Homo sapiens: one gene and its partner. The protein of the gene in region 2 purifies or fractionates together with the protein of the main gene of each other region. This does not show direct contact. Each region holds a gene or a part of one and is shown on either strand. Other genes may lie near its edges.

Region 1 (16,771 bases), on a different chromosome or scaffold from region 2:
GCTGGCGCTAGGGAATTCGTGGGTTTCGATATTGGAAAGGAGGGAGGGGGACTTGGTGGATTTAACGGCGCAGGATCGAGGTCAGCGGGAAGGCGGATCTGAGACGTAGCTTCCAGGCTCCGACCCGGAAGGTGAGCGAGAATCGGGGCCTGAGGTACTAAAGCCGTTGCTCGGGAAACGGGAAGGAGGCGGAGCCGAGCCTAGCTTTGACTGACAGGGACCACAGCAGGGGCGGGACTCTGCTTCTGACTGTTCCCAGAAGGTGGTGGCTTACTTTTGACCGCGAGGGCCCGGGGGCGGGGCTTGAAATGGACAGGCTTCACTGGGAGGAAATGGGGCTTGGCTCTGACCTGTAGGGCATCAGACCCAGCAGGACTAGGCCAGAGTCTGGCATAGCCCCACAGTGCCAGAGTTGAAGCTGGTCCTGATTACCTGTCCTTAGGAAGCAGGTGTCATTGGTTCCGGTGATCCTGGAAAGGAGCAGAATATCCCTACTTGACCACCTCCCTATGGCCAGGCTAAACTTAAAACATGGGCAGGGAGAGAGGGAAGGTTGTGGTCTTTCGGGTCTTCATAATAGGCAGGATGGGGGCTCTGGAGCAAATGAGGCCAGGCAAGGGGAAGAAGATGGGAGGGAAGGTCAAAGACACCAATTCAGGCTTCCAGAGAAAGTTCCTAAAGTCTGAGGTCTGGGAGGAAGACAGGAGGCCCACCCAAGAATGGGGCAGAGCACTTTCTAGTGAAAAACGTGCTGCGTCAGCCCAAATGCTGACTTCTGAGGAAATTTCCAAGTATAAGGAGGCAGTTTGGAAGGTATGATTGGCTAAGGTTTGTCCCTAGAGAGCCTGTGATGTGCCCTATAGCTAACTCTTTTGACGTGTTTGAGAAACTGGTGTGGAATTAGGAAGGAAAGATGACAGAGAAGCCCACTAGTGCCCTGGCCAATCTTTTCTCTGACATGGTTTAGTGATACCTGTGGAGCACAGATAATTCTGTTATAAAATGTTCTTAAGGGTTTTGTTTTGCAGAGATTTCTGTACCTCACTCCCCACATGGGGTTATGTTACATAGATTTTCCAGTAAAAGTATTAGGTTGGTGCAAAAGTGATTGCAGTTTTTGGCAATACAAGGCCTCTTTTCAAGGGGATTGCCAAAGGCCAAAAGTGTAACTGCAGAAAGAGCTTTAAGAGTTGACTAAGGATTCCAGTGGGCTTGGTGATTGACAGGACAGGATGAAATTAAAACTGGTTATCTAGGCCGGGCACGGTGGCTCACGCCTGTAATCCCAGCACTTTGGGAGGCCAAGGCAGGTGGATGGCTTGAGCCCAGGAATTGGAGACCAGCCTGGGCAACTTGGCAAAAACCATCTCTATAAAAAAATACAGAAGATTAGCTGGGTGTGGTGGCACGTGCCTGTAGTCTCAGCTACTTGGTAGGCTGAGGCAGGCGGATCAATTGAACTGGTGAGGTTGAGGCTGCAGTGAGCTGTGATCCATGATGGTGCCACTGCACTCCAGCCTGGGTGATAGAGTGAAACCCTGTCGCAAAAAAAAAAAAAAAAAAAAAAAACAGAAAGAAAGAAAAGAAAAGGAAAAAAAAAAAGGTGAAAGCATCTACATTCGCCCTCTGTCTTAGTACATACTTGGGGGTGCCAGAGGGAGGACTGATTTTCTAATCTCAGAGCTCCCTCTGCTGGGGCATGAGGCTCCCTACACAGGGGGAGGAATGAGACAAGACCTGGACTTGGGGAGAGTCCAGGGAGAGACGGAAGGCTGCAAGCAGGGGACTCTTTCTGGGCCCTCAGGACGTGGAATCAAGTGAAGACCAAGAAGTAGACAAGTTTGCAGTTTATTGAGTAATGGCTGGCTTCACAGATGTTATCACTGGGGGCGGTTGATAGGGGGAACAGGAAAATGCTCTCAGAGGTTCCCACTGAAGCCCTTTCATCTGCCCTGCCCCACCCACCACTGAAGCCAGAGGTCATGGGAGTTGGGATCTAACTACACTCTGTGAACTTACCACCACCCATTCCATCCCCAAGCCCATATTTTATTTGGACTAGCCACTGATGCCCGGGCCCTTCCTCTTCCAGGGGGTGGGAGGGTGGAGGTGGGGACAGGACCAACCCTCAAGAAAGAAAAGAGGTTAAGGTGGGGGTTTTGCTGAATGTCTAAGAAATGTCAGTGGAACAGGCTGGGCACAGTGGCTCATGCTTGTAATCCCAGTGCTTTGGGAGGCCAAGGCAGGTGGATCACCTGAGGTCAGGAGTTCGAGACTAGCCTGGCCAACATGGTGAAACCCCCATCTCTGCTAAAAATACAAAACTAGCAAGATGTGGTAGCACACACCTGTAATTTCCACTACTCGGGAGACTGAGGCAAGAGAATCACTTGAACCCAGGAGGCAGAGGTTGCAGTGAGCCAAGATCGCACCATCGCACTCCAGCCTGGGCAAAATAGTGAAACTCCATTAAAAAAAAAAAAAAAAGTCAATGGAACACAAAATTCCCTGTCTTAACATTGTACATTCGGGGCCTAGCTGCCCTTGAGGATGTCCTAGTTACACCCTCTCTGATACCTGTGGAGTTTAAGCACCATTCCTACCGCTGTGTCCCTTGGGAGGGGGTGCAGTGGAAGCTCTTAAAGGGGAATGCTTGCTCTGCCTCTGTGGCTTTTTGTTTGGGAAAGGGAGTTGGGATTGGAGGATTTAGATTTGAGGTCATGATGTCAGAGCACACCAGGAACTCCCAAGGCTGTGCCTGAAGATGCCCACGCTGTCAAGTAGGGTGGTGGGGGAGACAGCGAGGGCAGTACAGGACACAGGCACTCCTTTGTCTGGTAGAGAGGAGGAGGGGAAATGGAGCTATTCCAGGATACAAGGGATGGCACTGAGGGATGCATAAGTCCCCTGCCTCCCTTGTCTCAACATGTTCTCCTCTGCCAGCCCAGTCAGCTTGGGGAGCTAGGTATCAGAAACCTGAAGGATTCAGCCCGCTTTGTCCTACTAGTGTCTATAAGTCTCTGTCCTGAGATCCTGGGGCTCCTCCTATTTCTAGAAGGGATGAGGTGCCATCAAAAATAACTTGGCTGGTGTAACAGTTTAGAGAAGGAAGTCACACCTGTAGCCTGGCTGGCAGGCAGGTGGACATGAGGCTGAGAAGGGAAGCCAGATGTCAGAACATACTAGGCTAGCATGCCTGCTTCTAGCTTTCAGGACCCAATGTACACATACACATGTGTATCATGTATGTATATGCATGGACACTCAAGCACAGGAGGGGTTATGTGCTCTGATCTTTGAAACCAGAGAAGGGAGGAAAAGCCTTATGGAGGTCCCTCCCCCACCCTAATAGGTTGCTACCCTCAATTGCCATCTGCCCACCAAGGCCCCTGCCCAGTGCTAGGCAGATAGCCAAGTGGTAGGGGTGACATGACTCCACTAAAGCAGCAGCCCAAGGAAGTGAGGGAGGGGACAGAGGCTGACCCTCCTCAAAGCCCCTTGTTGTAGTAGACCACTTCAACGCTGGGGTTTTGCTCATGGATCTGAGCTCTCAGCTCTGGTTCCAGGTTGCTTATGTGTATGGAGCTGCAATAGAACAGCACAGGCCAGTTAACGTCCCCTGAATCCAACCCCACTCAGGCCCAGGGATTGCCATCCCACCTCCTCCCAGGCTGAAAAATCCTCTCCTTCTACTGCCAGAAGGACTGGCTCACTGTCATTCCCCCACTCCCAGAATCAGTGGAGTGCCTGCCAGGCCTCCTCCTGAACACCCTGGAAGACCCTAGGTCAGCTGGTCCAGAGATGCAGAGTCCAATCCAGAGTCCCCCACCCAGCCCAGGGACAGCACTTACCTCTTCTGGGGGAATAGGGCACAGCACAGGGGGGTTGCAAATACCAGGCTGGGGGAGACAAGTGTTGGAAAGGTTTGTAAAGCTTTGGCCTTAGGGTGTTCCCTCCCTGCACCCCACCCCATCCTTGGAGATAGGCCCTAGGGGTGGAGATTGATAAAAGCTGAAAGGACCTTTTAGGAATAGTAAACCCAACCTGGACATCAGGTTCTGAGGAAAGAGAGCCCCACAACCAGTAAGTGGCAGAATCAGGAATTAAATGGGCATGAATCTCCTGGATGGCACCAAAAGGTACATTTCCATGGTTTCCTCTTATAGATGAAGACTGGAACCCCCTCACTAGGATCTTGACCTTCAAGGACAGGGACCACCCCGTAACACACAAAGTAGACCCTATAGTTGTTCCAAACACACACCCACTGAATGTATGAATGGATGATGTCTATAAACATCTTAAAGACAATCCATACCCACCCACATCCACCATGGACAAGGCACTCCCACACACCCCAGCTAACTCCTTGCACACTTACCAGAAGCCCACCAGTCCCACCTGCAGGGGTGCCCCCAGCCAGGGGCGGCGCTGTGGAGAGACAGAAAGACAATGGAACGGCTTGTGTCCCCTGCCTCACTGTCACCCCATTTCACCCACCATAGCTCTATCCCATCAGCCTTGCCTTGGAGCCCTTAGACCTGTGGCCGTTTTCTTTCTCCCAAGGCAATGACAGGGCTGGGACCTCCAGATCACGCCCTTCCACTCCAGCCAGGCCTGTCTGCTGATCACCCTCCCCGGCATCCCATGACCTCTCACCTCTCAGAATTGGTTGCCATGGCACTCCCTGGCCCTTTTTTTTCTTCCCTCACTTCCTCCAGGAGCTGATTTCTTCAGGAAACCTCCTGTGAACCTCCACTTACCTCTTCCCATCCCAGTGGCATGAATCTGACCCTTTCCAAGCACATCTCTTCCTCGGCACTCTTCTCAATTTGCTCTGGCCACAGGGACCACCAACCTGTTCCTCAAATGTGCAAGCCCCTCCTACTGCAGTGCCCTTGCACTGACTGTTTTCTGTACCCCAAACACTCTTCTCTGCGTTATTTGGCTCTCTCCTCATCCTTTGCGGCATTAAAGACCCCTTCTCTGATCATCCTATCTAAACAGCTCTCCCCCATGAATCTCAATTACACTACCCCCATTGCTTTCCTACAAAGCACATATTACACTTTCTAAGAATGTATTTATTGGGTGCCTCCTTGTTTATTGGTTTCTGCATCAGACTATAAACTTCATGAGGACAGGGGCCATAACCATTGTGTTCAGTGCCATCTCCTCAGCCCTAAAACATGCCTGGTGCATGGCACTCAATACATTTGTGAATAAATGATTCTGTGAATGAGCCAGAGCTTGTTCCTGTGCTTTGCTTTCGTGTCCTGTTCATGTCTGTGTGTGCGTGTTCACCCGTGTGTACCTCTCAGTATGGAGGCACTAGGGGGTAAAAGAATGAGCATGAGATCAAGCATGACTATGACAGTCCCCTTCTGTGTGTCAGAAGCCACTGGAGTAACACTGATGAAGTTGGTTTCCTTCCTTTGTCCTCTCCTCCTGCCCCTGCAGAGTTCCTTCACCCCAGCCCAGTTCATTCTTGCTGAATGAACGAAGGTGGAGGAGGCGGTGCAGGGGTCAGGAGAAGGGCTGGCAAGTCTTAGAGAATCAGGCGAGGCTGGAGAGAGAGTTGGGGCCTGGTCACTTCTCCCAGCCATCGCCCATTCCAGGACAAGAGAGGTACAGTCGCCTACCTTCAGGAAGTCTTTCTTCTCCAGAGTGTCCATGATCAGTGGTGGGATGGCTGTGGGGAGAGCAGGGCCAAGAAGGAGAACATTAGTAGTGGAGTTAAAGTCAGGAACTGTGAAGGGTGACCCCCCTCAAAGCTCCTCCCTCTCTCCCCAGAGTCCTCCAAAGTCCCTGAGAACTGCACCTGCTTCTCTCAGAGTCTCCTATGCCCCACCCAGCCACTCCCGCCTTACCCATGGCAGGAATCGCCATGCAGATTCTTGAAATCACCACCTGGAAGATTCCCTGCTTGGCTGCAGTCACCGAGTAGCCAAGCCTCTGACCTGCCTCATCAGCCACCGGGATGCCCACCTGCAGCTCTCTGCAAGGGAGGGGGGTTGGGGTCAGATCACAGGCCCCGGATCCCACCTGCAATGCCCGAATGAGCAGCGGCTCCTCAGGGTCCCCTCACACACCCCAGGCTCAAAGGCTGGTTCTCCCACCTGAGGATCCCAGGGTCAGACTGAGCCAGGGCCCAGCAGCTCATGTCTGGGGAGGGAGAGGGATGTCCCCATTCTGAGGTGGTCTGCGTGGATGGACAGTGTGCTACATTCTGGGCATGCACATGCCAGGAGCCGGGGTCACTCACCTCTGCCTCATCAGGGGGATGTTGATGCAGTTGGCAGCTGCCACTGCTGCAAAGGGCACAAATCTGCCGACCAAGGGGGGCAGGTGCTGGGGAGGAAGGGTGTTGTTCAGTGGCCCTAAGGGCCATGGGGTGGTGAGGGACTCTGGGGAGATATAGGGGGCATATAGGTCAGAACTGGAGGTGTGATGAGGAAGAAGGAGGCAGATAGAGGATGAATGGGGTGGTCAGGGGAGTGAGGGGCCTTTACCTTGGTGAGGGATTTGAGTCCCAGGGCCGTGGCCACAGCTCCAGTGGTGGCACTCACATAGGCTGTCCCCAGCTGCCTGTGGGTGGAAAAGCCAGGTCACGGGGAGAGGTGACAAGTCCAGCAGGTGGCCCTTTCCTTTAGGGATATGCCAAGTCCTCAATACATGAGGCATAAAAGGGGAAGCTCCTTGCAGAAGAAGCCTTCCCTCCATCTCCGGCGTAAACTTGTCTAGAAGCCCCAGTAGCACCCTGTGAAGAGGGGTGGGTCCCCCACAGCATACATAAGAGGACCTCATGCCTTCAGTTAGGCAGGGTAATTCGGGGTGGGGCAGGCTGAGGAGAGGGCGCTGAGCACTGGCTGCATGGTCCACAGGGAACCGGAGAGAAAGGAGAGGGCACTGCAGGCTGGGAGGAGAGGGTCAGATGGGACAGTGCAGCTGCTGCTGGGGGCTGGCTCTCACCTCACAGTGATGGGAGTGTCACCACTGCGGTTGGAGTAGTTAACAATGGCATTGAAGGACTGATTCACCCACTGCCAGAACACCACGGTTGGGGTCTTCCTGAGGGAACAAAGACACTCACTTCTGCCCCGTCTACAGTGGCCCTCATCTTTAGACCCCTGTAATGAAACCAAAGGTTATTCCCCAAGCCTAAGAAGGGACCCAGTTAATGGCCCTAGAACCTGTTCTGGTAACCCCTATGTACCCCCACCCCCATTTATACAAACACACCTACTGTCTCTGGGGTGAGAGACCTCCTGAGGCTGAATTCTGAGGAATGGAAGCGATTCTGACACAATCTTTCACTCACCCAGTTGGCCCAGACAAGAAGCGCACCTAGTCAAGCTATGCTCTAGCTTAGGGCACTGAAGAAGGGGACGTGGGACAAGACCTGCCTGTAGAATGTGAGCATGCAGCCAGTGATGGTCATGTTCATGGGCACCTGGGCTGACATGCGGCCAATCAGGACCACCTTCTCCCCTGTGTCCGGATGGAAGGCGGAGTCATACACATACTTGGCCCTCCACAGCTGGTCCTCGGTGATCCCTGGGGTCACCACGCCGGCCCTGCAGAAGTTGGCAAGGAGCAGACAGGCTATGCCAGGGGGCAGATCTGCCCTCACAGGCCCCACCTGCCCAGCTCAGGGTAACTCTGGACAGAGAACCAGGAACTTCAGCCCCCAGTCTCAGCATAAGGAAGCTCCTTATCTTTGGGAGAGGGCCAAAGTTTCCCAGAAGTGGAGGCTCCTATTTCTATTTCCCTTATAGCCACACAAAGAGGGGTACCCTTCTGTTTCTGCCAAAATGCTGGGTCAGGGATGATGGTGGTTTCCAGTGGGTCAAAAATGGCTGCAAGCATTGCAAGAGTTTTTCCTCCCAAAGATAAGGGGATTTCCCTCCTATCTTCCTGGGACTCCACTTTGAGCACCTCTATCCTTGCAGAGGGTGACCCCGCAATGGGATAGATCCCTGTAGAGGTTTGTGATGCATAGAGCAGCCCCTCCCATAAATATCAATGCCATCTTCTCAACCCAAATGCCCTAAAATCCTTTGGGTTAAAGCTCTGTGATGCCAACAGACGGGGCTAGAGAGTGAGGGGATTGAGGGACAGGGTCACTGTCAAGCTTGAGGAGGCAGGTACAAAACATATTATATTAATCACAGAAAATGAGATCCTGGCACACAGGGTCAGATTGAGGGGTGGTCACCTGTAGTTCTGCACGATGTTCCGAGAAGCTTCCAGCTGTGCCCCGGACAGCAGCAGATTTCGAGGATCAGTAACAGTGAAAAAGTGCCGGGCTCTGCCCAGGAAAGTACTTTGGTCCCAGCGAGGTTCCTGGATGTTGATGTCTAAAGGCAATTCACCCATTTTCTGCAGGACAGAGATAAGGGTCAGAGCGGGAGTCCAAGGGTCCAAGGGCTCCAGCTAGGGGAAATCTTTGGTGCCCCTGCCCTGGCCCCTGAGCTTATCATCAGTCCCTTCAAGAGCTCAAGGTGACTAGATGTAGGGAAAAGAAAGAGAGATCAGACTGTTACTGTGTCTATGTAGAAAGGAAAGACATAAGAGACTCCATTTTGAAAAAGACCTGTACTTTAAACAATTGCTTTGCTGAGATGTTGTTAATTTGTAGCTTTGCCCCAGCCACTTTGCCCCAGCACTTTGACCCAATCTGGAGCTCACAAAAACATGTGTTGTATAAAATCAAGGTTTAAGGGATCTAGGGATGTGCAGGACGTGCCTTGTTAACAAAATGTTTACAAGCAGTATACTTGGTAAAAGTCATTGCCATTCTCTAGTCTCAATAAACCAGGGGCACAATTAACTGCGGAAAGCCACAGGGACTTCTGCCCTTGAAAGCGGGGTATCGTCCAAGGTTTCTTCCCATGCATAGTCTGAAATATGGCCTCGTGGGATGAGAAAGACCTGACCGTCCCCCAGCTTGACACCCATAAAGGGTCTGTGCTGAGGTGGATTAGTAAAAGAGGAAAGCCTCTTGCAGTTGAGATAGAGGAAGGCCACTGTCTCCTGCTTGCCCCTGGGAACTGAATGTCTCCATATAAAACGCGATTGCACATTTGTTCAATTCTGAGATAGGAGAAAAACCGCCCTATGGTGGGAGGTGAGATATGTTTGCAGTAATGCTGCCTTGTTATTCTTTACTCCGCTGAGATGTTTGGGTGGAGAGAAACATAAATCTGGCTTACATGCACATCTAGGCATAGTACCTTCCCTTGAACCTAATTATGACATAGATTCTTTTGCTCACATGTTTTTTGCTGACCTTCTCCTTATTATCAACCTGCTCTACTACTACATTCCTTTTTGCTGAAATAATGAAAATAATAATCAATAAAAACTGAGGGAACTCAGAGACCGGTGCCGGTGCAGATCCTTGGTATGCTGAACGCCGGTCCCCTGGGCCCACTGTTGTTTCTCTATACTTTGTCTCTGTGTCTTATTTCTTTTCTCAGTCTCTTGTCCCACCCTACTAGAAATACCCACAGGTGTGGAGGGGCAGGCCACCCCTTCAACTAGGTAGGTAAGCAAGGGTGTGGGGAGGAGCTGTTTCCTGGGCAATGTCCCAGCCCAGGGACCTGCAGCCACTGGAGGAGGGGGAAGGGAAGACCAGAAACAGGAAAACAGATCTCCTTGTGCTCTATCCTGGTACAGATTTTCATGAGTGAGGATTTACATATATGTGGTTGACACATAAGCAGCAACAAACATCCCAGCCACGTGTGCTACAGATGCACAAGAATATATAATATATATATTACACACCCATGCTCAGGTGAGCTTTAGGCCCCAGCTGCACTGAGACCTGGATACAAACCCCCAAGGCTGTTTTGGAAAATGGCACAAGACATCCCACACTCCAGTCCCTGATTGGAGGAGAGCAAGGCCTTACTGGCCACCCAGGGCTTATCTGTTCCAGATCTCAATCAGGGGACTCTGATGTCAGCCATGTGTGTGCATGTGGGCACGCACAAGTCCTCTCTACAGACCCATTTTTCTCCAACTCACACTGAATGACCCCAGGCTCTCCCTGGTCCCTGGCCAGGCAGGGCTGGCACAGACACTCATCCACCTCTCTCTGGGCCACTTGCCTCCGGATAAGAGCAGGATTCAGTGGCTGCTCCCTCCACCCAGCACAGAGAGGAAAGCCTGGTGCAGCCATCTGGCTGAGTTGGGCAGAATCCTACAGAATGACTAATCCTCTCCAGCCACACTTCCTCCCGCAGAGGCAGAGACGCCCTCCCCTCACACTCACATACCCACACACAAAGACACTATCATGCACACCCTGCCCAGACATACAGACAGAGTGGAGGTGTCCTGTATACACCGGCCTTCAAACACCTTTACAGGCGCACACTGTGCCCATCTGCAGACACTTGAATGTGTGACTACACACAGCCCCACCCTGACATTCCTCCCCCCAACCTCCCTTGTGCCCTGTGGACTTGGACCTCCACAGAGCCGAGGACATTGACTGCACCAGGACAGACAGTTTCAAGGCAGGCCTCCTTCTCTGACCCCCATTCCAGAACCCCGCCCGCCGGGGAGAGCGAGCACTTACGCTTTCCATCGCTCTCTGAAGCTCTCAGAACCGCCTTCCTCTCTGCCTCCGCTGTCGCCGCCGGGCCCTCCCAGCCATCACGCGGGACGTCACGCGTGACGCCGACCAGCAGGGAGGGGCAGGAGCTTCCCGGCCGCGCCCACCCGGTGGGCACGGGGATTGGCAGAACCTGAGGGCGGTGGGTGTCATTCGAGGCGATGCCCCCAGCCTGGGCCACCTGGACCAGGCCCTAAGCTGCTTCCCAGAGCCAATCCCACCTCGGGGATCAGTTCTGGCCCCCTCCCCAGCCAAAGGGAGGAGGGGCTGGAGCCGCGGGCGCTGCTCCCTTGGTTTACAGTCCCCTGGCGGGCCTCAGCAGACCCCCAGCCCTGCAGCAAGCGGTCTAGGTGCCCAGAGAGAAAGCCCCGGGCGCAGGTGGGCGGTGTGGAGGGGCGGTCCTCTGCTGGCGCGCCGGGAGGGACTCGGGTTACCGCCTGGCTTGTTTACTTGATGGCTGCCTTGGCAATGGCCTTTGGCTTGCTTGTCCCCCTGGGCTCCTACCCCAGTATCCACAAGCTCCTCTTGTAGCAGCGCGGCATTCGCATCACTTCACAGCCCCGTTCCTGTCGTGCCTGTGCCTCTTCTATGTCCCCAGCCCTCTCCCTGCTCCCCCTCTGTAACCCCTAGCTCCACTGTGTCCCTGGTCTCCTTACGCTCCCAACCCCTAGCCCTGCACCCCAGACCGTAGCCCCACCCCTGAGATGTGGAGGGGCAGACGACCCCAGGAACCTCGCGGTCTGCATCCGAGCAAGTGCATCAGAAGGATTCTTAGGATTCTTCCGGTCCTGGGACCAGCTGCCCCACCCTGCGACCATTCCAGAACTGGGTAGCCAGAGACGCCTTCTGACAGAGGAGGAGGATGCAAGTGAAGAAGGCACCCCCTCCGCCACGCACATACTCACAACTCACCCAGCCACCACACAGAGCACGCCTGCAGCAAACTCAGGCTCACGTCCCGCTCTGCCCCGTGACGTCCCTCCACGGAGGCCTCAAGGGTGCCCAGGGAGGGGTGGCAATTCCAGGAGCCCCGGTAGCTGGCTCGGCTCAGAGAAGAGGTGGTTCGAGCCGGAGGGGAACAAGCCAGACCCAAGCCCTAAATTTGCGGAATGAGCTAGGGCGTCAGAACCAGAACTGGGGTGGGTAAAGAACTCCGCTGCCCGGGACCAGGTAACGCTCGGCTGTCCCTGGCGCCTAAGGGAGGTGCCGGAATAGAATGACTGGCGGCCCTACCAGCCAATGGGAGCCCGGGGCGGTGCAGGCCAGCCCAATTCCCGCAGCCTCCGCGCAGCGTGGGTGGGGTTTGCCGGCTGCGGCAGTAGCTCTCGCCTGCGGGTGGTTTGACAAGGCTGGCGGCGCCACACCAGCGACCAGGTGAGGCCGACCAGGCACAAAGGGGTGGGGGGCCTGGAGGGCCGAGTTGATGTTGGGGTGCTTCATTCTAGGTCCCAGAGCTTCTCTGAGGGAACTGGCCCTGGGTTTTGCGCGGGATGTCGTGGGACCCCTCTCCAGCAGATCCTCCCCAAAGCTTGGGAGAGGTTCATGCAGCCTCTTTAGACCCGGAGCCGCAGCCTGGAGCCCGCGGGTGTCTGGGGGTCTTCCTGGGCCTCAGCTGTCTAAGGTCCTGAAGCCCTATCCTCGAGGCCCAGCCCGCCCCACGCAGCCCCCGCCCCACCCCGGGCCACCTCCATGCCCGCATATGCATGAGAGAGGTGATGCCATGAGCTGTCCTGACCTCTCTTTTGTCTCACACCTCTCTAAGCCCCAGGGCCCGCAGTAATCCCAACTCCACTCTCAACCTCTACTGAGGACTGGGGACGGGAGTAGATGACTCAGCCCCGAGCAGGAATGAGGGGTGAAAGGTTCCCACCTGCCTTGTATAAAGTCAGCGAGAGTCCAAGATGGTGCCTGGACGGGGCAGTTCTCTGGCCTAGGGTGAGACAGGAGGGGGGCCTAAGGCATGGGAGGGCAGGATGCTTAAACCAGGGGGAGGGGTGGAAGTTTTAGGGGGCAGCAGGGGAAACATTTACACCCCTCCCTCATCCCTGCTCTCCCTGCCCAGGCCTGGAGCTCACACTTCTGAGAGGCATCGCAAGCGAGGGCCTTCACGTTACTGAGACCCCAGCCCCGCACAGAGGCTCATGGAGCTCGAAGCACGCAGGGCTGGCCTCTCCAGAGCTAGCAGATTCCTTCTGGACCTGTAGGGTGCCGCCCTAGCCCAGCCGCCATGGCGCAGGGTTTCGCAGTGGGCTTCGACCCACTGGGCCTAGGAGACCTGAGCTCCGGCTCTCTGAGCTCCCTCTCCTCCCGAGGCCACCTAGGCAGCGACTCAGGCTCCACCGCAACGCGATACCTGCTAAGGAAGCAACAACGGCTGCTGAACGGGCCCCCCCGCGGAATCCGAGCCTCATCGCCCATGGGACGCGTCATCCTCATCAACTCCCCCATCGAAGGTAGGGGCGGGACCCAGCCACTGGCCTGGGTTGGGGAGGGTGGGGGTAGGGGACAATGGGAACTCAGCAGGAGGAGGCAGAGCCAGTATGATTGGGGGAATTCAAGAGATGGGAGTCACAGGGAGGTGGCAGGCCGCCTGGGAACCCATACACTCTTCCTCACCTGCCCTTGGCCTCTCCTCCAGGCCAATCCTGCAGGGGTCCAGGGTCGTAGAAGGGTCAGAGGAGGGAAAGAAGGCCATGGCAGCAGGGACAGGCATGCGTGTGGTATGCTAGCCCCTGGTGGACAAGGCAGGGGATTGAACTGGCCTCTCTCCCATGGGCTCTGCCCTTCTCCAGATCCATTGTGTGTACTTCTGGGGGATGGGGCAGGATAAAGAAGGACATCCTCCATCAACCAGTCCATTGTGTGACAAGCTCTGTGCTGGGCTGCGAGGAGTCAGTGCCCAAGCGGGTAGACAGAATTCAGGGCTTCCGTGCTGAAGGAGGGGAATGAAGGCAGCACAGCAAATGTTCAGAAGAGGAGGGTTGAGGGTGGAGAGGGAGCTCCATCAGGGAAGGGGAGACCTAAGCTTATGTAGTTGCTTAATGCCGCTTCATGGAGCACAATTCTATACCAGCCCTGGGGAGGTGTTACAAGGGACCTAGAGAGAAATCAGGCTCCCTCTTCACCTTCCAGGAATCTACAGTGTAGCAGGACAGAGCAATAAGAACAGCTGGTGGCAGGGGTGAGCTGTCACCAACAAAGGCTGGAAGTGAAAAGCATGGAGCATGGTAGGTGGGCACTTAGGAGCCAGCCTGGCTGTAGTGACAGATGTGAGGTGACTAACAGCTGATGAGCAAGACAGGACCTAGAATGCCAGGTGCGGAGCCAGGCCCCCTGAGTCTGAGCTTTCTGTGAGCAGGACCAGATAAATATCTCCAGCTCCTCTCCTCTTTCTTAGCCAGCAGAGCTCCCCTGGCTGGATCCCAGACTGGACTGTTCAGGCCCTGCTCCTCCCCCTCTGACCCAGCAGGGCATCTCTCTTCCCCTCCCTAGGCCACTGGAGCAGGGTGGGGCATGTTGCTCAGGGAGCAGGCTTTCCTCCACCAGTGCCCTGGCACGCTCACCCCTGTCATACACCAGTCTATGCTTCACCCTCTGGTGAGCACAGGGCACTGCTGAGGGTCACCACGGTCATTCTGGTGAGGGAGCAGAAGTCCCCAGAGGAGTTAGGAGACATTGGGGAAAAGGGAAGCAGGCACCGCATAACTGTCTTTATTAGTCCCATTCTATTAAAAGAACTATGCTATACTCCCTCTGATACACTCTTTCTGTTTCTCTCTCTCTCCCCTTCCCTTTGCCCATGTATGATGCAAGCGCTGTTTATAACGTCTTTTTTTTTTTTTTTAAGAGGGAAAGGGTCTTGCTCTGTCGCTCACCCAAGCTGAAGTGCAGTGGTGTGATCATAGCTCACTGCAGCCTCAAACTTCTGGGCTCAAGTGATCCTCCAGCCTCAGCCTCCTGAGTAGCCAGAACTATAGGCATGCAACACCAAGCCCAGCTAATTTTATTTTATTTTATTTTTTGTAGAGACAGAGTTTCACCATGTTGCCCAGGCTGGTCTTGAACTCCTAGGCTCAAGTGATCTTCCGGCCTCAGCCTCCCAAAGTGCTGGGATTATAGGCATGAGCCACCATGCCTGGCCTATACTGTCCCTCTAAAGATCCTCTTCCAGGGGTTTCATGATTGCTTTCTCCCTCTGCCTCATGCTAGCGCCACTGTGCAGCCAAGGAAGCAGCATCTCCTAGCAGTGAGGGACTGAGGAGTTGCTCTGACCACTTGGCTTCTCCTCTGACTGGACTGGGACCCTCTGAGCTCAGAATTCTCCCCTCTGCCTGAGAACAGGTATCTCCCAAGTCACCGCAGCCTGGAACCCTGCCCCATGTTATTATTTAGATCACTCCCGGGGAGTAAAGTAACTGATAAGGAATAAACGGTGACATTGCCACCTACATCGGCCCCATGAGATCCCACCAGCTCCTTAAATTCAACTGGTCCCAGAGAAAATGCATTACCTTTAATCCAGGAAAGCATTACCCTTAATGCATTTCTCCTCACTCTCCTAGTTTGACCATCCATCCATCCATTTATTCTTTCACTTATTCAAAAAAAATACCTATCAAATACCAAGCACTGTCCAACATATTGGAGATATACTAGAAGAGTATTACGAAGTCCCCACCATGATTGAACTTATGGTCTAGTGAAAAGAGACAGATAAATCACAAATAAGCGAACGACGACAAAGGATGGGAAGAGTCAGAATGTGATCATCTGATGACATGATAGAATGGTGCTTCTCAAACCTCAGATGCCTCAGAATTGCCGGGAAGGCTCATTCAGGGATAGATTGCAGGGCTCAGTCCCAGAGCTTCTGGTCCAGTGGGTCTGTGGTAAAGCGAAGGAATTCCCGTTTTTAGCAAGTTCTCAGATGACACTGACGCTGCTGATCCAGGATTACGCTTTGAGAAGCCCTACAAGAGGTACTCACTGGGAGGAAGGGAGGACACTCCAGGAAGCCTTCTCCAAGAAAGTGGTGTCTGAGCCAGGAGGGGAACGAGGAAGAGGAGCTGACCTTCTAAAGGCCTGGGCAGGAGCACTGCAGGCAGAGGGAACACTGGAAGGGCTTGGCCTCCATGAGGAACAGGAAGATCAGTGTGGCCAGAGCTCAGTGAGGGAGGGGAGGGTGGAGGGGAGGGCGGAGGGGTGGGCAGAGGAAAGCCCAGGCAGGGCCTTATAGGGCATGGTGAGGAGACTGGAGTTCTAGAAGCAGGAACAGGTGTTGAAGTTTTTAATCAGGGAAAAGACATGAGCTAATGTAAAAGCTGACTCTGGGTACTGTATAGAGAATAGCTAAAGGCGGCAAGAGTGGAAGCAAGGATAGTGCCGGGGCTGCAGTGGAGCACCTGGGGGAGAGGCTGGGGCAGTGGAGGTAGAGAAGATTCCATCCTTGCAGGGCTCAGGCTCCTGGAAAATCTCAGATTTCACATTCCCTGACCTAGGGCCCTAGGGAGGCCCCAGTGAGGCCCTGAGGAGAGAGGGTTGGTAGCAAGGGAGTAAAAGGCTCCTTGGCTAAGGCTGAAAGTGTCCTGAGATCTGTGTAATCTAATCAGCTGGGAAAGCCCTGGCCCCCCACATCTGTCCTGCACCACCCCTCCCCCCAGGCTGCCCTCGGGGATTTCTTTCTGAGCTGCCCTGGCCGTGCCCTGTAACCTGACTTCTCTTAGATCAAATTGAAGTGTGTGTGTGTGTGTGTGTGTGTGTGTGTGTGTGTGTGTGTGTGTGTGATTTCTCCCTGTCAAACACCTCTAGAGTAACCCTTACCTATGAAGAAATCTCAGCTTCTCACCTGGGACCCAACTTACCCCTCCAGCCTTCTTGCTTTTCTGTAACTGGAAGGCCTCCTCAAGGGCCCACAGCTGAGCCTCCCTGGCTCTTTCCCCCTCATCAGTGCCCCCCCTTACCCCCCACCCATCAAAATCCCACCCATCAGAGTCCTTACAGAAACCTTACCTGGCCTGGGCAAGGTGGCTCACACCTGTAATCCCAGCATTTTGGGAGGCCGAGGCAGGTGGATCACTTGAGGTTAGGAGTTCGAGACCAGCCTGGCCAACATGGTGAAACCCTGTCTCTACTAAAAGTACAAAA
Region 2 (13,941 bases):
AACTGTAAAGACAAGTTTAGTTTTATAAACCTGTCTTTAAAACTTGTCTTTAAACTTAAATTCTAAATATATATGGAGAAATAATATGGAATAATATTTCCATATGTCTTTCAATCTAGAAATAAAACTTAAATTATAGCCACCTTCAGGGAAACACCAATGAACAAAAAAAAAGTCTTTCAGCATCTCCTTATTGATGTTCATGATTTTAAAAAAGGGAATTAGAAAGTTGAAAGTATGTTTAAAATTACTTTTAGGTTAAATAATTGGCTTAAAGATGTGTTGATTTGAAAACCAGATTGTCACAATGCCTAAGAGAAATAAACTTTTGCAATGAAAGCTGATGTGTTATATTCACTTGTCCAGTTGAATTTTCTCATTCAGTGATTACACGTGGTGTCCAGTGATTGAATTTTGAGGGTCTCCTCATGGCACTTTGTGCAAGAAACATGGTTATGAAAGCTGCCACGTTATTGATGTACTCTTTAATAACGTCATCAGTATTGGTAGAATTTTATGCAATAAATGAATGGGCTATTACTGGATACATACTCAGAGAAATATAAATCTTTCTACCATAAAGACACATGCACACGAATGTTCATTGCAGCACTATTCACAATAGCAAAAACATGGAATCAATCTAAATGTGAGTCAACAATAGATTGGATAGAGAAAATGTGATACATAGATACCATGGAATACTAAGCAGCCTTAAAAAAGAAGATTATGTCTTTTGTGGGAACATCGGTAGAACTGGAGACCATTATCCTTAGCAAACATGGGAACAGAAAACCAAATACTGCATGTCCTCACTTATAAGTGGGAGCTAAATGATGAGAATTCATAAACACAAAGAAGGGAATAACAGACACTGGAGTCTACTTGAGGGCGGAAGGTAGGAGGAGGGAGAGGAGCCGAAAAAAACAATATTAGGCACTGGGCTTAATACCTGGGTGATGAAATAATCTGTACAACAAACCTCCACGACATGAGTTTACCTATATAAAAAGCCTTTAACATGTACCCCCGAAAGCTAAAATAAAAGTTAAGAAATAATGGATGGGCTTGAGACAGGAAAGTGTGGAGATGAATGTTCGCTTAGAATAAATTGACTATTGGACTCGGGTCCTAGCTGAGCAATAGATACAAAATCTGGTGAGATCCATTCAGTCAATTGAAAATAAGGCAGAGCAAAGGAAGCCCCAGGGATGGGTGGACTTGGTTACAGCCTGTTTGGAGCTGATGGCTGGCATGCCCTTCCCTAAGAAGGTGCAGTGGAGGCCTGTAGCCAGAAAGGCCACACCGGTATTCTGAGCAGGAATAAGTTTCATGACTTGAAGAAGCTTCTTACTCATTATACAGGGGAGTAAAGAGACGATATATGCTTGGGCAGGAGATAAGAACGGTATGAAACCAAGAAGAGAAGACAGACTTGTCAGAAGCTAGAAAGAAGAGGACCTGCTACAGAGCCCGGATTCAGGAGATTTTTGGAAGGCACCTTCCAAAATCCCCTTCTTTGCTAGACTCTGTCTTGGCTCCGTGTCCCTGTACTTTCATACGAACACTAAAAAATGAGGCAAATGTAGCAAAAGGTAGTGAATTGCTTTGTAAATTCTGGGAAGAGGACCTGAGACTAACGTAGAGAGAAAATGCACTTCAGCCAGTAACATGAATTATAACATTTAAAACTACTTATTTTTATTTATATCAGAGTAACAAATACTTATGAAGTCCTTTGAAGTTCAGCGCACAAATTTCTCGTGTGGGGCGGTGGGTGTGGCCATGTTCTTGCTCTTCCTTCTTTACACATTTGAGTTGTGCCTTCTGTTCTTAAAGAGATTTTCCTTTGTTCAAAGGATTTATTCCTACCATTTCACAAATCCGAAAATAATTGAGGAAACAGGTTACATCATTCCAATTTTGCCTTGGGTTTGAAGAGTCTCTCATGGTGGCACAGTCCTCCAGGGTAGCTATGTTGTTGGGCTCCCCTACATCCCAGAAGCTGAAAAAGAATGACATAGGAGACTTAAAATCCCAGCAAAAAGAGGTAAAGTAACCTAATATACTAGGCAAATTACATTTGTGTTATTTAACCTCACAACAATTTTGCGAGGTAGGTATTATAATGTCCATTTTATTGAAGAAGAAAAGGAACCTCAGGAAGCTAAACTAGTTGTCGAAGTCACAGTTTGTGAGTACTGAAGCTGAACCGGATCTTTCTGACTTTCTATTCTGTCCTGTTCCTTTGTTCCTTTTCTATTCTGTCCTGTTCCTTAGCTATAGAATGAGAAGTTATGGGGAAGATTGATATTCTGATAGATTTGTTTTCTTCACACTCATACCTCATATCGGCTTAGCTCTCTTTATTCTGCACAGAGTGTGTATTAACTTAGGTGCATCCTGCAGTGATGTTACAGTGTGGTAGTGAAGCAGCATTTCTAACATGTCAGAGTATCTCTGTTGTACTCTTAGAACTGCTCATTAGCTAAGTCACTTAACTCTGCTGAGTTTTAGTTTCCTCAAATGCTAAATAAAGATTAATAATACTGATACATTCCAAGAAAGTGTAATTTAGGTAAAATGAAATAATAAATGAGAAAAAAAATTAAAAATGCTATGCTCTATCAGGAAGAATACCTAATGGATGCTGGACTTAATACCCGGGTCATGTTATGATTTCTGCAGCAAACCAAACCACCACGGCACACGTTTACCTATGTAACCTGCACATCCTGCACATGTACCCTGGAACTTAAAATAAAAGTTGAAGAAAAGAAAAAAGAAAAAACTCACTCCCTAACAAATCATGAGAATCAACATATATAGCAAAATATTTTATATATCAATTAACCAATCTAACAAAAAAAGCATATCCACAATAAAAAATGCTATGTTCTAATGACGTGAGGCTATTATTAAGGAGAAAAGAGACATTATCAAGAGATTCTCATTTTTCACTGCATAAGAACCTGCTGTCTTTCTCAACTTACTATTTTTTTCCTCATTTCCTTCAGTTTTGGGGAATAAGACTCTTAATTCCACCTCTCGTCTCTTTTGCATTCTCAGTGAATGATTCTTCAGTTCATTTTCATTTATTATTTCCCCTTTATTCTTGAGACAATTCCAGGAAAGGAGAGAAGTGGGTGCTTGTACTTCTCCTTCATCTTTTCTACCTTAGCTCTTCTCTTTCCTGCATTTAATACCACCACCAATAATGGACCTGATCTATTGCAGGTAACAGAAGGAGGTTTCAAGAACTCCTCTCAATAGGAGGGTAATTACCTCAGAGACTTTGTCAAAGGTGTGCCGTCCACCCATTGCCACTGACCCTCGACAACCTGGTCTGACAGTCCAATAAAAAACTCTCTCATTTTAGGTTTCTTGTAGGAAAGGAATTCCTATGGAAGATACAAAATAAAAGGAGATCAGTTATTTTAGTTTTGAATAAACGTTGCTAGTAATTATTATTCAAAGAGGTAAGAATCTGGATGAGATCCTAGCACTTTGGGAGGCCGAGGCGGGTGGATCACCTGAGGTCAGGAGTTCAAGACCAGCTTGACCAACATGGCGAAACCCTGTCTCTACTAAAAGTATAAAAAAATTTGCCAGGCATGGTGGCGGGTGCCTGTAGTCCCAGCTACTTGGGAGGCTGAGGCAGGAGAATCGCTTGAACCTGGGAGGCAGAGGTTGCAGTGAGCCGAGATTGCGCCACTGCACTCCAGCCTGGGCAACACAGCAAGACTCCATCTCAAAAAGTAAAAAAGAATCTGGATGAGAAATAACAGATAAGTGAAACTGTAAGATCATGAGGATTATCTACTGATTTTTTTTTGTGGTAAAATATACATAACATAAAATTAAACTGAAAAAATAACCTTCAACAGAAAAGGAGATCCTCAATAATTCTTTCAAAGTTTATCTACTATTATTGGTGGCCAAATTTATTGAATATATCTAGCGCAAAATATTATTAATCACAGCTTAAAGAAAACGGACAATATTTGCTTCTCTTCTTTCATATAATATGTTCATAAACATAACGATTCGTCTAAAATTAACACTTCCAACCCTCTTTTTCCCCTTGCCTAACTAAAGGAACTCCACATGGAAATTCCCTTTTTCTTAGGTTCTTCTAGGAAGGAAAATAAATTAAGGTAGGCAGTGACTTTACCGAAATAGTAAGAACAGCATGCATTTTAGTACATTCATTAACAATAGTCATTGGGGGTCAAGCACTGTGCATATGTATGAAAAGAGAGGTGGACCATGTCGGGAATGTTACATTGGCATCGGAGGACTCCAGCTACCTGCTCCTCCTGTGAGTTGATAACCACCAGGTGAGCCCCCATGGCTGAGCAGTTCTTTAAACTTAACGCCCAGGAAATGGTGTCAGTAGAAAAGAAGTAGCAGCTGGATTGAAAATATTCCCAGTTCAATGGACAACAATTCTTGACTGAACCTAGGATGAGAGATGTTTCAGTGAGTGTCCCAGGTGAACCGAATAAGAAAACCCAAAGCTTCATCTGGCCCCATGGAGTCCTCATTTAAGTCAGAAGCCTTGGAATCACTTGTTCATACCCTACATCTTAGTATCTAAGACTTTAGATAATTCCAATGTCAAGAAACATAAACAGAATGTTTTTGGTCTTTTGAACGTAATTCTCATTCTCTGGATGTCAGTGCCAGGAAATGCAACTATATATGCAAACTATCTTAGTTATGCTATTGATATAGAACCTTATTATCTGTTCTTAGACTACTAATGTCAGAGAAATTTATGCATTTTATTTGGGTGACCCCCAAAGAGCCATCTCTTATGTTACCTAAACAATGTATCCTCAATCAAATCTCCATACTGTAGTATATAGATGGGTTAGATGTGGGCGGCAAGCCACCCAGGCGCTGAGGCAAGAGACAGAGGACACGAGCTGTTCCAGTATAATAAAATATAAAACAAGAATAGTTATACCAGATATAGATCTTAGATATGATTATATATGAATATCATTAATCATTAGTTTGTAGCAATTACTTTTTATTCCAATATTATAATAATCCTCGCTCTATAATCATAGCCAAGGAAAAACCAGGCCGTACAGAGCTACGAGCTGAGGGGACATAGTGAGGTGTGACCAGAAGACAAGAGTGCGAGCCTTCCGTTATGCCCGGACAGGGCCACCAGAGGGCTCCTTGGTCTAGCGGTGACGCCAGCGTCTGGGAAGACGCCCGTGGCCAGGCAGACAGACTGTGGTCTAGCGGTAGCGTTAAGTGTCAAGGGAAAACACCCGCTACTTAGCAGACAGGAAAAGGGAGTCTTCCTTTCCCTGGGGGAGTTTAGAGAAGACTCTGCTCCTCCACCTCTTGTGGAGGGCCTGACATTAGTCAGGCTTGCCCGCAGTTATCCGGAGGCCTAACCGTCTCCCTGTGATGCTGTGCTTCAGTGGTCACACTCCTAGTCTGCCTTCATGTTCCATCCTGTACACCTGGCTCTGCCTTCTAGATAGCAGTAGTAAATTAGCGAAAGTACTAATAGTCCCTGATATGCAGAAATAATAGCGTAAGCTGTCTTTCTCTCTGTCTCCTCTCCCTCTCTGCCTCGGCTGCCAGGCAGGGAAGGTCCCCCTGTCCAGTGGACACGTGACCCACATGACCTTACCTATCATTGGAGATGACTCACACTCTCTACCCTGCCCCTTTCACCTTGTATCCAATAAATAACAGCGCAGCCAGACATTCGGAGCCACTACCGGTCTCCGCGCATTGGTGGTAGTGGTCCCTTGGGCCCAGCTGCCTTTTCTTTTATCTCTTTGTCTTGTGTCTTTATTTCTACATGCTCTCGTCTCTGGACACAGGGAGAGACCCACCAACCCTGTGGGGCTGGTCCCTACAGTTAGATTTCTTAGAATTACAGAACTTTTGCCTTTGAGGTCTATTATAAATAATTCTTCTAACTTCTCTCAATTTAATGGTGAGAAAATTATAGCTCAGAGAAGGAAGTCACTTTTTTAGTGTCATGTAGCATTTTGCTAGGACTTGCAACAGGATGACATAGAAGAGCATAGAGAGTATATTTGTGAGATATTTATAAATTCTCTACTCCATACGTTTTTTCTCCATCTCATTTTGGAAGTAGGTGAATGAAAAAAAAGGTACACTCCTGGGAATAATACCTTCCACTTCCAGATTTACTGTTCAGACATACCCCTCAAATTTATTCTAAAAGTTTACTATAATGTCCCCAAGACTTTCTGCCCCAATGCTAATTGCATCACCAAATTTCTAGGATTTTACATTTTGCTTTTGAAAAATAAGACCTAATCCAGCTATATCTCACCTGTCCCAAAGTCAATCTAGAAGCCAGAAAATGTTGCTTTGTAAATTTTGATGTTCACCTTTGGGACTATTATACCTGATCCATAATTGTAGCAGGAGAGCTCTGTGAAATTCTCAGGTAGCTGAAACTTTTTCTCATCACAGGTTTGAAAGATGCGAAATGTCACTGTAAAAGAAAGGGCATAATGTTTGTTAGTCTTATTTCGGTTAAAAATGTCAGTTCCCTCAGTTTTGTATTTATAACAAAAGTGCCAATAATTATCATGTTTTTTCTTACAATCTGCTTTTTCTTACGACCCAGAGAAAATAGATATGTTTGCACTACCTCTTATGCCAAGTCCAACTCTCTCTACCCTTCCTTCCAAAAGTAATTAGTCATATCTCTGGTGCCGACCAGTAGTTCAAGCTCTAAGGCAGACTCTCCTAGAGAAGGTTACACTAATGATAGAGGCTGAAAGAGGAGGATTCAGGACTGCCAAGGAAGTGAAAAATGTCTATCATGAAAAGTAAGTCACAGGTGATTAAAATTCAGAAACAGTTCCCTGCTTGTTGAGGTTTCTGGTTTGAGAAATAACCTAGAGATTAATAGGGAAAAAAAAAAGGGTGAAATAGAAAGACCCTTTGAGGGCAAAGAGAGTCTACAGGCAGCATGGAAGAGTTTTCTCCTAATATGCACCAGGAAGAATTAAATTGAATTTGACCTTCAGAACCCACCAACACATCTGGTGATGAAACAGGCACTGAGAAATAGGATGGGGATCCCAGCAACAGTCCATAAGAACATTTGGGAAGAGAAGCATCCTCTCTCTGTAGAAAGAAAGACACAAACATGATCAATCTTCCCTAAGCAAGGTACAAAAGAGATAGAAGAGATTCTTATTCATCCTTACTTATTTCCTTCTACTTCCATTGTTTGTACTGAGTAATTCCCAAATTTCAGCATGCTTCAGAATCACTTGGAGGGTTTATGGAAACACAGATTGCTGACCCTTACCCCCAGAGTTAGCAACTCAGTAGAGTTTGTATGGAACCAACAAGTTCCCAGGGGCTACTGCTGCTGCTGGTCTGAGGACCACACGTTTAGCACCCCTGGAGTAAGACTCTGACTCATGAACTCAGATATACAATTTTTCCTTTCTAAGTCTCTCAGTTAAATTTTTTTCAGTATTTTCTAAGGCCCCCCTTCTTTCTTTTTCTTTCTTTTCCCTTTTCTCGTCTTTGCTTTTCTTGTCCTTCTCCTGATCTTTTTTTTTTTTCTGTGTCTCACTTTTCAAGCGCTTTGTAAATTAGGTAAAATGTTAACAGTCATCTAATAGTTCCTCTCTTCCTCCCATTAAACATTTTACAGACAAAGAGAGTTCCAGAGAAGTGAAGTGACTTGCCAAAAGGGACACAATGTATTGCAGAAAGGGTGGAAACTGATAGCTCTCCCTTAGCTAGAGGCCAGCAGGCTTTCTGGTATAAGAAATAGTCTTTAAATCTCTCTCTCTCTCTTCCTCTGTCCCCCCACTTTTTTTTTTAACTTCAGTGAATACTTTTCTATTGTCCTGTCTTTCACCATATTTATCACTTGTTCCAAAAAGAGATCTATGGAAGGAAAGGAAGAGTTGCAGATTTTACCTGTGCATTGTGTTTCAGATGATTTAGATGAATTCATTTTTTCTCTCTCTTTGGTTTTTTGTTTCTCTCTCTCTCTTTTTCTCTCCCTCCCTCTCTTTCTTTCTCCTCAGGAGTGTTTTGTTGGTAAGATTCAGGGAGAATGAATCTTGAAAGATAAACACTTTGTCTTTTAGGAAGTTCAGCTCCGATAGATGTAGAATATTAACTTGTTCTGTGGCTACGCATTAAGTCAGGATTTCCTTTCTTGCATAAGGAGGACAAGGAAGTTTATTGGACAGCATGTCAGTTCTCTTCACTCCATGTAACAACAAAATGAGGAAATTATGAAATGGTAAGCATCAACACAAATAGGCTAGCCATGGGGAAACAGGAGAGTTTTTTTTTTAAATGTTGTTTCGTTTCGTTGGACCAAATGTCTCTAGTTTCTTCAAGGCATAACTCATCCCCCAGTTTTTCCTTGACAATATGGAGCTCACCTCTGCACTCTGAATTTCACTTTGGATCTGTACCATCCACACATTTGGTAACTGAAAAGAAGACTTAGACAACATAGCACAAAGCTGGGCATATAGTGTATGTATTTAGGACATGGCAACCTGAATTTTTTCATCTTTTTTTTTTTTTTTTTTTTTGAGACAGAGTCTCGCTCTGTCGTCCAGGCTGGAGTGCAGTGGCATGATCTCCGCTCACTGCAAGCTCCGCCTCCCGGGTTCAAGCCATTCTCCTGCCTCAGCCTCCCGAGTAGCTGGGACTACAGGCGCTCGCCACCACGCCTGGCTAATTTTTTGTATTTTTAGCAGAGACGGGGTTTCACTGTGGTCGTCAGGATGGTTTCAATTTCCTGACCTCGTGATCCGCCCGCCTCAGCCTCCCAAAGTCCTGAGATTACAGGCGTGAGCCACCGCGCCCGTCCTCTTTTTCATCTTTTATGGTTTTTCTTTCTTCTTCATTTGCAGCTCTTGAATATTCTAATGTTGTGGATTTATGTCCCTCTTATCTTATGCTGACTACTAGGCTGCTACTACTAGGCTGACTACTAGAGTCCCCCTCAGCAGGACAGCCTCATGTGATTAGACCACTTTGAAACTCAGCTTAGTTTTTCACAACATAACGCAGCTTCTGAAGTCTCAGAGACCCAGCAGGCAGTTTAATTCTCCTGTTCTCAATTATTTGGGGATTTTAGTTCTATGTTACAGCCTACAGTAGGAGAAATGTATTTGAAGGTCAGAAAAAGCAATTTCAATTAGATATTAGAATTTAATGGTTCTCTGGGCCGGGAGCAGTGGCTCATGCCTGTAATTCCAACACTTTGGGAGGCCAAGGTGGGTGGATCATTTGAGGTCAGGAGTTTGAGACCAGCCTGGCCAACATGGTGAAACCCCACCTCTACTAAAAATACAAAAATTAGCCAAGTGTGGTGGCACGCATCTGTAATTCCAGATACTTGAGAGGCTGAGACAGGAGAATAGCTTGATCCTGGGAGGCAGAGGTTGCAGTGAGCCAAAATTGCACCACTGCACTCCAGCCTGGGCGATAGAGTGAGACTCTGTCTCAAAAAAAAAAAAAAAAAAGAATTAATGCTTCTCTGGAAGAATAGTTAGATATGTGCCTTCTCCTTACTTAAAGATACTTAAGAATAAGATCACACTGGTCTCAGTTTATTTAAGTTCACGAGTCAGGAGGCATAAGTATGATGTACATGACTTGGTAAATCCCCACATCCAGTGACTCACGAATTTTCCATGTGTGAGAAAATATTCTTGTTCTCAAAGGGACTTTTTATTATTTCAAGGTACTGGTCAATTTTCTCTGCATTCTCTGTTTTATAGTAATACAATTTTAAAAATATCTTTAAATTATATATGTGTATATTATAGAATATACCCATATTTAATATGTGTATTCTCAGCAAATAGCTTTTGATCAGTAAAAAAAGAGAAACTATCTAGTGGATGAGCTATATGAATTATAAAATGATGAACATAATTACCACAGTCCATCTTTTATTAATTACAATCAACCAGCAACCATCAATATTACTAAACAATTGTATGTTAATTTTTATCAATATACAATTAAACAGAAATCAATAAATTAATATTTTTTCCAGCCAAAATGTTTTTATATCTTTTGTTTCATTGATTTTCCCCAAATTATACGAGTAATATGTTTTATGATTAATACTATGAAAAGCATGTGACAAGTAAAAGCCTTCTTAACTATCCTTAGTGCATTCTTCTAAAGTTGACCATGCTTAATGATTTCTTTTTTGGGGGGGGGGATTAATTTTTATTTATTTTTATTTATCTTTTATTACACTTTAAGCTTTAGGGTACGTGTGCACAACGTGCAGGTTTGTTACATATGCATACATGTGCCATGCTGGTGTGCTGCACCCATTAACTCGTCATTTAGCATTAGGTATATCTCCTAATGCTATCCCTCCCCCCTCCCCCCACCCCACAACAGTCCCCAGAGTGTGATGTTCCCCTTCCTGGGTCCAAGTGTTCTCATTGTTCAATTCCCACCTATGAGTGAGAACATGCGGTGTTTGGTTTTTTGTTCTTGCGATAGTTTGCTGAGAATGATGGTTTCCAGCTTCATCCATGTGCCTACAAAGGACATGAACTCATCATTTTTTATGGCTGCATAGTATTCCATGGTGTATATGTGCCACATTTTCTTAATCCAGTCTATCATTGATGGACATTTGGGTTGGTTCCAAGTCTTTGCTATTGTGAATAGTGCCACAATAAACATACGTGTGCATGTGTCTTTATAGCAGCATGATTTATAATCCTTTGGGTATATACCCAGTAATGGGGTGGCTGGGTCAAATTGTATTTCTAGTTCTAGATCCCTGAGGAATCTCCACACTGACTTCCACAATGGTTGAACTAGTTTACGTCCCACCAACAGTGTAAAAGCATTCCTATTTCTCCACATCCTCTCCAGCACCTGTTGTTCAGCAATAGATTCTTTGATTTCCCTTTTTAAATATCATCCAGGAACTTATCGTCTAAGTCCCTTTTCTAAACTATATTGCCTGTCAATATTTCAGGCAACTGAAAAAGAATCAGTAAAAGCTGTAAACATCTATGCCATACGAGTATTGTTAGTATCTACTTTTCTTTGATGCCAAGAGAAACATCACTCAATTTTAGCCTTGGGGCAGATTTATTTTTTGTCTTTTCATCTAACATGCAATCACTAACTGATCCCAGGGCTGCTGCTTCCCAGGTTGACGGCCAGCCCTTTACCCTTGAACTGCCATCTATCTGTAAGCCACACTGCTGCCTTGACAGCTGACCAGAGAGAGGGGCCTATTCAGCTATAGGTTTAGCCAACTCCTCAGGGGAACCAAATTTATGGTGACCTGTCAGCCACCTGACTGTGCATGCATTGGGTAACCCCATTTCACATTCTTGAGTATCTCCTTTCTATTCAAGGAGGGAATTCTGTGCATTTCATTTCTTGTTGGAATGATGATATGATATAAATAGGATGTTATGAGTTTTCAAATAATTTTATGTCCTTCAGTACAAAAAGCAGTTTCAACTAAAACCCAGTAACAAGCTAGCAATTCCTTTTAAATGGTGCTACTTCAAGCTGCAGCCAGGTAGCTTTTTATTACAAAAATCCCACAGGCAGCCACTAGGTGGCAGTAACAGGCTTTTGCCAGCGGCTCCAGTCAGCATGGCTTGACTGTGTGCTGCAGAAACTTCTTAAATCGTCTGTGTTTGGGACTCGTGGGGCCCCACAGGGCTTTACAAGGGCTTTTTAATTTCCAAAAACATAAAACAAAAAAAAATACAAATGTATTATCTTGCTCAAAACTTCAGTCAAATTTAGCTTTTTTCTTGATAACTTTATTAACAGGGGTATGCCATTTCTCCACCACATTAACAAGCCAACATCTTTGCACCTCTTGCTTTCATTTTGGAGCTGGCAGAGACAATTACTTATTTTTGGTTGTCTGAGGGATGCCTCTCATCTCCCCTGTCCAGGTGATGCCTAAGAATTTTACCATTTCCCCTGGACCCTGTTCTTTAGTTGGGTTAATCAGCCTCATATGATTAACAAGCATTATACAGTAATTCAATCTTTGCTAGATCTTCAAATTGAGTTAATATGACATTAATGCAGTTAATAATATTACTTTCTAATTGATCACATCTAAGTATCTTCTTGCCAAGTGCCGTGATAAAAAGGAGAATTTAAATAACCTTATGGGAACATAGCAAATGTATACTGGAATCCATCCCACATGAATGTGTATTAGCTTTGATTTTCTCCCTAAATAGAGATAGAAAATAAGGTTTTAGGCAAATAGATAACAGAATATTACTGTCTTTTAGCTTTTAGCAAAGCTTGAATTGTGATGCCATCTTGGGTACAGCTGATGCTGTTGGAAGCATGATTTTATTCAGTCCTCTCTAACATACAATTCATCTCCAGGATCCACCAAGTTTTCTTCTAGGCCATACTGGATTATTAAACAGGGAATCTGTGGGCATTAACATGACTGTGTCTAACTTATTCTTAATTAAAGCTGAAATTCTTCCTCCAGCCTATTCTTAATTAAAACTGAACCCCCCATCCTATATTGTTTTAAAATAATCATTTGAATGTGCTTAAGCAATTCTAAGGGTTCCCATCTAGCAGGTCCAATTAAAAACAGGATGAAGAGAAGATTGGCAGTCTTTTCCAATGGTTTGGGTAAGGAAAGAGTCCGCCATTCAGACATCATGCTCATTTTTAAAATATATTCTAGTTGGACTGAGACAAAATCATACATTAATTTCATTCATAAATACCGTACTAATATGAGGGACTTGAGAATCCACAGGTTTTGGTATTCAAAGCAGGGTCCTCAAACCAATCCCCCACTGATACCAAGGGATGATTGTATCTACTTCTGGCCATACTATCACCTGCAAGTTTTCTGTATTTAATTATATTTCCCTTTCACTTTTCATTGGCAGGTTTAGGTGTGACAGTAGATTAAGTACCAATGTCCAGCAATCCAATAATGTTTCTTCATCATCCCTTACCATTTTACTCATACTGATGCGTATGGCCTTATGTCTTCTGCTGGGGATTGTGCCAAGAGACATTGGACCACATGTCACTCACCTTCCTCATAATCCTCTCCTTTACTTTGTACTGTTTTAGTCTGCACTGACTCTGAAGAGATTATGTATGTATATATATACATACATACATATATATACACACATATACATATATAGAGAGAGCATGTGTGTGTGTGTGTAATCATCAGATTTTAAAATTCAGGTTAGGACAAATTGAACAAGTCTGTTGTGTAACCTCTTAAAGTTTGAGGAGCTGGTGGGACAGCCGAACAACCTAATCTCTCACAGTGATCCATTAACATTTTAGTACTTCCCCCATCTATCTCCTCCCCTTTCACGCCACTTAAAAAATATTAGAAATAACTTTTAAACTACATTTTAAATTTTGGAATAGTTTCAGATACATAGAAAAATTGTCACTATAATACACTGTACAGAAAGTCCCTATATGGCCCACATCCAGTTTCCCAATTATTAACATCTTACTTTAATATGGCACATTTGTCATAATTAGTGAACTAGCATTGGTGTATTATTATTAACTAAAGTCCTTTATTCAAATTTTCTTAGTTTTTGCCTATTTTTTTTTCTGTTCCAGGATTCCATCCAGGATCCTTGGCTATGACAGTTTCCCAGACTTTCCTTGTTTCTGATGACTTTGACAGTTTTCAGGAGTACTGGTTGGGTCAGGTATTTTGTAAAATGTTCCTCGATTGGGGTTGGTCTGATGGTTTTTCATGATTAGGCTAGGTTTATGGGTTTGGGAAGGAAGACCACAAAAGCAAGTGCCATTCTCATCGCAGAGTATCAAGGGTACCTACTATCAATACGACATCATGGTTAATGTGAACCTTGAACACTCGACTGAGGCAGTATCTGTCAGGTTTCC

The links.
Region 1: the proteins of CLEC4E (region 2) and SFXN3 purify together in Homo sapiens (affinity purification with mass spectrometry; 2 studies listed by BioGRID and IntAct, with this or other methods). This does not show direct contact.

Annotation. Positions count from the first base shown.
Region 1 is NC_000010.11:101,026,303-101,043,073, reverse strand, and holds SFXN3 (sideroflexin-3), read right to left. Parts: upstream 11,841-16,771; 5' UTR 11,540-11,840; exon of another isoform or gene 11,132-11,539; intron 10,761-11,131; 5' UTR 10,601-10,760; coding exon of another isoform or gene 10,592-10,600; intron 8,383-10,591; coding exon of another isoform or gene 8,380-8,382; coding exon 8,219-8,379; intron 7,578-8,218; coding exon 7,407-7,577; intron 7,131-7,406; coding exon of another isoform or gene 7,072-7,130; coding exon 6,973-7,071; intron 6,589-6,972; coding exon 6,513-6,588; intron 6,408-6,512; exon of another isoform or gene 6,352-6,407; coding exon 6,266-6,351; intron 5,999-6,265; coding exon 5,871-5,998; intron 5,693-5,870; coding exon 5,643-5,692; coding exon of another isoform or gene 5,301-5,642; exon of another isoform or gene 4,704-5,300; intron 4,432-4,703; coding exon 4,382-4,431; intron 3,900-4,381; coding exon 3,852-3,899; intron 3,586-3,851; coding exon 3,489-3,585; 3' UTR 1,833-3,488; downstream 1-1,832. Other genes in the region: PDZD7 (PDZ domain-containing protein 7), read left to right, coding at 12,855-13,080. UniProt on the Homo sapiens protein: Mitochondrial serine transporter that mediates transport of serine into mitochondria, an important step of the one-carbon metabolism pathway.
Region 2 is NC_000012.12:8,532,805-8,546,745, forward strand, and holds CLEC4E (C-type lectin domain family 4 member E), read right to left. Parts: upstream 8,102-13,941; 5' UTR 7,994-8,101; coding exon 7,957-7,993; intron 7,144-7,956; coding exon 7,051-7,143; intron 6,503-7,050; coding exon 6,413-6,502; coding exon of another isoform or gene 6,396-6,412; intron 4,463-6,395; coding exon 4,311-4,462; intron 3,402-4,310; coding exon 3,286-3,401; intron 2,006-3,285; coding exon 1,834-2,005; 3' UTR 501-1,833; downstream 1-500.